Regions from separate parts of the Homo sapiens genome. Here region 2 is linked to region 1. Evidence: fine-mapped expression QTL. A gene starts in region 1. The other region holds a variant in brackets. All regions are shown on one strand. Distances are from middle to middle. Region 1 holds the start of SETD6 (SET domain containing 6, protein lysine methyltransferase). Region 2 overlaps CNOT1 (CCR4-NOT transcription complex subunit 1).

Region 1 (2,732 bases):
TCTCCACGGCCTCAGGTACGCCTGTGCCCTGGAGCAGGCACCGGCGCTCCTCCTCTGGCCTGCAGGGACACCCACACCCAGGTTCCCTTCATTCCTTCACACACTTTACTGGGTAGGACTGGTGCAGGGGCGGGGAAACTTCTTGCAGCAGGCTACGGTGCAGGCGCTCCCCAACCCCTCCCAAGGCTCTCACCAGAACATCGGGTGCTCCAAGCGGCCCAGCTCGGGCCAGAGCGCAAAGTAGGGCCTCCAGCGTGAGGCCGGGGCCTGCAGCTCGTGGAGCAGCGCCAGCAGCAGTGGCACCCAGCCCGACTGGCTCTGCAGCGCAACTCGCTCTGAGGAAGACACAGGTGTGAGCGCCCCGGCGCGGCCTCGCGGGCCGGGCCCGCCCCGCCCCGCCCCGCCCCGCCCCAGGGCCCTAGCCCGCCGCCGTGCCCACCTCGCTCCAGCAGGCCGCCGATGGAGCAGGTGTGCTGCGACAGGAGCGCGGCCCGCGGCACCACGAACAACAGCTCTCCGGCCTGCACGCTCTCCCGGGCCACCATGCCGTAGCCGGCCACCGTGCCCTGCCGGCTGACCGCCACCTGAGCAGGAGGGCTGGTCAGGGCAGCCCGCGCCCCGCCGCGGGTCCTCCGCCCGCCGGCTCGCTCGCTCACCTTGGGACTCAGCTCCAGCCCCACCCGCCGGCACCAGCTCAGGAAGCAGGCCACAGGATCCAGGTCGCCGCCGTCCACGGGCCCCGCCACCTGAGATAAGTGCGCGCAGTGACCAGGTCCGACCCCCAGAGAGGCCGCTGGGAACTGCAGGAGACCGCGGCGCGAGCGCAGAACGGGCTTTGGGTGGAGGAGGGGACGAGCGGAGAGGGGCGCGGGACCCGCGGGAGGGAGCGGAGGGGGCGCAGGCGGACGGTTCTGCGAACGGAGAAGGGGTGAGGCGCGGAGGAAAAGGCTGGACCCCGCGCCCGCCACTCACCCGTGGACGCTTCGCCTGGGTCGCCATGGTCTAAGAGCGCGTTTCCTCGCGGGCCGGCGCACCGCGCGGTCACTTCCGGCGTCTCTGGCCCCGCCCCGGCGCCGGAACCACGTGGTGCCTGTTTTGTCGTCCACGCTGCAGACTGGCCGGAGTTACCGCGGGCTGGAATCGTTCCTCATGAAAACATCTTGAGTCCAGGATCTCCAATTGCACTCACGCGCTGCGAGTGCAGAAGGAGAGTCCCGTGCCGCTTGGCGCCTGGTTCTGAGCCAGGTACAGCCCTGGCCTTCGGTCTGTCCCCGAGGGCTGAGGCTTCTTGCGGTCTGGGTGCAAGAACAAAATACGGTTTCTGGATCGGAAGCCGAGGGTCTGGTGGCCGGCCGGTGGTGAGCGACGCAACTGGGCGGCGAGCGACCTCCTGATCTCGACCCCTTGTTGCCGATGGCCATGGAACCCTTTTACTGGTGGTATTCGTTCAGAGCAGTTTTCGTGTGTGTTTCAGAGTGGCGTGGCCTAGAGGGCTCCTGGATCTAGAATAGATCCTCTCTGCCCTTATTTGCCAGTACATCCTCGTTTTTAATCTGCTGCATAGCACGTGGTGGGTTTTATTAGCTGACATAGTAGGGACTCAATATCTACCTATTGGGTAAATAAATGAATAAAACAAATGGTGGTTAAACCTGGGGAAGTAGCATGCTGTTAAATGTAAGAAAATGAGGCTGTGAATATAGAGGTTACAGGAATGGGTTTTGAAGCCAAGCAACGCCGCAGCTCAACACTCAGTTTTTTTTTTTTTTCCTTTTTTTTTTTTTTTTTTTTGGCGCGTTGGGGAGACGGGAGTCTCGCCCAGGCTGGAGTGCAGTGGTGCGATCTCGGCTCACTGCAACCTCCACCTCCCGGGTTCAAGCAATTCCCCTGCCTCAGCCTCCCAAGTAGCTGGGACTACAGGCGTACGCTGCCATGCCCAGCTAATTTTTTGTGTTTATTTTTAGTAGAGTCGGGGTTTCACCGCGTTGCCCAGGCTGGTCTCGAACTCCTGAGCTCAGGCAATCCCCCCGCCTCGGCCTCCCAGAGTGCTAGGATTACAGGCGTGAGCCACCGCGCGCGGCCTGGTCTGTTACTCAGGCAAATCCTTTTTCCTGAACCTTAGTCTCCTCACCTGCGAAACTAAGATAATACCTACTCTGTAGAATTAATGTAAGGATTGGTATGTTGACTAAAGAAAAAATATTAAGCTTTTAAATAATTAAAATTAGTTTTATTTAGAAGCCTTATTGAGGACTATAGACTGAGGCCTGTAGCCCAGGAGTAATCTTGTGAGGCTCCTCTAACACGGTATTTTAGTTTAGGTTATACATAGGTGAAGATTTAGTATGTGTAAAATCATATCAAAGTTTAGGGATAAGTATATCTGGTTATAGATTGCAGAGTATAATCATTAACCCTGTCAGACATGATCGTATGTTTAGGAGAAGGCAAAGAGTAGGTCATTTATCTTTGAAGGAATGTAGTGACTCAGGCAAGAGATTTGGAGGGCAGGGGTGTTTTGTTTTGTCTTTAAGGCATTTTTTTCTGGAGAGCTGTATTTTGTTTTTTTGTTTTATTTTGAGGCAGAGTCTTGCTCTGTCATCCAGGCTGGAGTGCAGTGGCACGATCTCCACTCACTACCACCTCTGCCTCCTAGGTTCAAGCGATTCTCCTGCCTCAGCCTCCCGAGTAGCTGGTATTACAGGCACGCGCCACCATGCTCAGCTAATTTT
Region 2 (3,020 bases), 53 kb before region 1:
TCAGCTGTTAATTTATTGAGTATTGTATGTGATGAGTTGCTTCTATCTTGCTGCTGGTAAGATACTCTCCTTGTCTTTTTTCTTTCATCAGCTTGATTATGTTATTCTAGGTATGAATCTCTTTGAGTTTATTCTACTTAGAATTTATTGAATTTCTTGGGTGTCTAGATTAATGTTTTTAATAAAATTTATCGGGTTTTCAGTCATTATTTCTACAAATCTTTCCGTACCTTTTTCTTCTCTCCTTGTACTCCCATTATGTTTGTGGTGGCACACTCAGTAGTGCTCCACATGTCCTTGAGTTCTCAGCCCCCATCCCCCCACCCCCTTTTTTTTCATTTTCTCAGGCTGGATAATTTTAATTGATCTATCTTCAAATGAACTATTTTGTCTGCTTGAATGTGTGGTGGGACATGTGGTTAGTGAAACTTTATTACAGTTACTGTACTTTTTCTGTTTGGTATGTTGTAGAGTGTAGTATCTGATGGGAAAAAACGAATTTCTGTTTTTTGGTTTTTTTTTTTGCTAATTTCTATGGACATGCTTTTTGAGATAGTATTCCTATGTTTTCCTTCAGTTCTTTTGATATATTTTCTTTTAAACGTGTTCTGTAGTGGCTGGGTGTCATGGCTTCAGCCTATAATCCCAGCAGCACTTTGGGAGGCCAAGGTGGGTGGATCACTTGAGATCAGGAGTTTGAGACCAGCTGGCCAACATGGCAAAACTCCGTATCCACTAAAAATGCAAAAATTAGCCAGGCATAGTGAAGGGCGACTATAGTCCCAGCTACTTGGGAGGCTGAGGCAAGAGAATTGCTTGAACCCAGGAGATGGAAGGTACACTGAGCCGAGTTTGTGCCACTGCACTCCAACCTGGGCAGCAGAGTAAGACTCTGTCTCAAAAACCAAAATAAAATGAAAATAAATGTGTTTGGTAACTGATTTGAATTCCTTGTCTAGTAAGTCCAACAGCAGTGTTTCCTCAAGGATCATTTCTACATAGCTTTCCAGCCCTTTGCATGGGACACCCTTTTGTTTCTTTACAAGTCTTGTAATTTTTTTGTTGAAAACAGACAACTTTAAATAATATGGCATTTCCTGGAATCAGATCTTCCTTCTTCAGCAGAGCACATTGTTCGTTATTGCCCTTTTTTTGTTTAGTGACTTTCCTGAACTAATTCTGTTCTTTATAATAGTTGGCTACTGAAGTTCCTGCTTGGTTAGCCTTGTTGTCAGCTAAGATTGACGAGATTTTCTTAAACCTAATCTTGGGAATCAATTCAGCACTAAGCCAGGCAATTCACAGCCACCTTAGTCTTTACTTCCAAAGTTTTTTTTTTTTCTCTCTTTTTTTTAAAATCGAGACGGAGTCTCGCTCTGTCGCCCAGGATGGAGTGCAGTGGCACGATCTCGGCTCACTACAACCTCCACCTCCGGGGTTCAAGCGATTCTCCTGCCTCAGCTGAGTAGCTGGGATTACAGGAGCATGCCACCACGCCTGGCTAATTTTTGTATTTTTAGTAGAGACAGGGTTTCACCATGTTGGCCAGGATGGTCTCGATCTCTTGACCTCGTGATCTGCCTGCCTTGGCCTCCCAAAGTGCTGAGATTACAGGCTTGAGCCACTGCACCCGGCTCAAAGTTTTTCTTTACAGATTTTTTTTTTTTTCTTGAGATGGAGTTTCGCTCTTGTTGCCCAGCCTGGAGTGCAGTGGCACA[A/G]TCTCGGCTCACTGCAACCTCCACCTCCTGGGTTCAAGTGATTCTAATGCCTCAGCCTCCCGAGTAGCTAGGATTACAGGCATGCACCATTACGCCCAGCTAATTTTGTATTTTCTTTAGTAGAGACAGGGTTTCTCATGTTGGGCAGGCTGGTCTCAAACTCCCGACCTCAGGTGATTCGCCCGCCTCCCAAAGTACTGAGATTACAGGCGTGAGCCACCGTGCCCGGCCTTCTTTACAGATTTTTAGTTAGCCTGTATGTAGTTTGCTCCAACTGTAGTAGTCTTCCACCTCAGATAGGCAATAAGTTTAAAACAGTTACTTTCAAATGTTTTTTGTAAACACCTCATGCAGAAAAGGTTTTTGTTTGGGTCAGTTTTCAGGTCAAATAAATCCAACCTTGTCATTGTGTTCTCACACAGACTCCCTATACAGATGAAATAATGACAATTCACTGAGAAGGAGGCTTTGAAGATGTTTTAACCCTGTTTTGATTCACCTCTCAGGCTTCTGGTTTTCATTGTGATTGAGGGCTGTCAGCTTCTAAGCTGGCTGTGGAGCTGGAGATGGGAATAATAGGGCAAATTAATGTGCTAGAAAACTTGATAGTCTCTTGAATAAAAATTTCCCACTTGTTATAAGCCTTTGGTTAACTTCCAAAGTTCTGAAAAAGTTGATTCAGACACTTTTCTAGTTGCTTTTATGAAGGAGAGGAAGTCAGCCCATACCCTGTCGTTTTGCTTTATGAGAAGGTTTTTTTTTTTTTTTTTGAGATGATGTCTTGCCTCCAATTACCTGGGATTACAGGTATATGCTACCATGCATGCCTATTTTTTAAATTTATTTTTATTTTTAATTTTCTGTGGAAATGGGGCTTCACCATGTTGCCCAGGATGGTCTCAAACCCCTGAGCTGAGGCACTCCTCCTGCCTTGGCTTCCGAAAGCGCTGGGATTACAGGTATGAGCCACCACGCCCGGCCAGCATTATTTCTTTTTGTTGTTGTTTAAATAGTCTCACTCTATTACCCAGACTAGAGTGTAGTAATGTGATCATGGCTCACTCGTGGGCTCAAGCAGTCCTCTCTGCATCCTAAAGCGCTGGGGTTATAGGCATAAGCCACCTATGCTCAGCCTTTTTTTTTCTTTCTTTCTTTTTTTCTTATGAGGTCTTACTGTGTTGTTGTACAGTCTGAAGTACAGTGCATGTTCACAGGCACAATCATAGCTCAATGCAACCTTGAACTCCTGGCTTAGTCTTCCTGCCTGAGCCTTGTGAGTAGGTGGTCCTATAGACGCATGCC

What was found.
Region 2: its variant is fine-mapped to the expression of SETD6 in blood mononuclear cells (TOPMed, PIP above 0.99). The same link has a PIP of 0.9 or more in fibroblasts.

Annotation. Positions count from the first base shown.
Region 1 is chr16:58,513,805-58,516,536 of GRCh38, reverse strand. It overlaps SETD6 (SET domain containing 6, protein lysine methyltransferase), which reads right to left and starts at 1,020. Exons shown (of 8, transcript NM_001160305.4): 1 at 973-1,020; 2 at 440-746; 3 at 194-335; 4 at 1-59. The coding sequence starts at 999. It also overlaps a transcript of NDRG4 not described here. RefSeq lists enhancers at 1-135, 1,176-1,345 and a silencer at 396-1,055.
Region 2 is chr16:58,567,020-58,570,039 of GRCh38, reverse strand. All of the region lies in intron 16 of CNOT1 (CCR4-NOT transcription complex subunit 1), which reads left to right. Among named protein-coding and RNA genes, the nearest start is that of SNORA50A, 8.6 kb to the right of the region's middle. The variant A/G (reference allele first, on the strand shown) is at 1,719.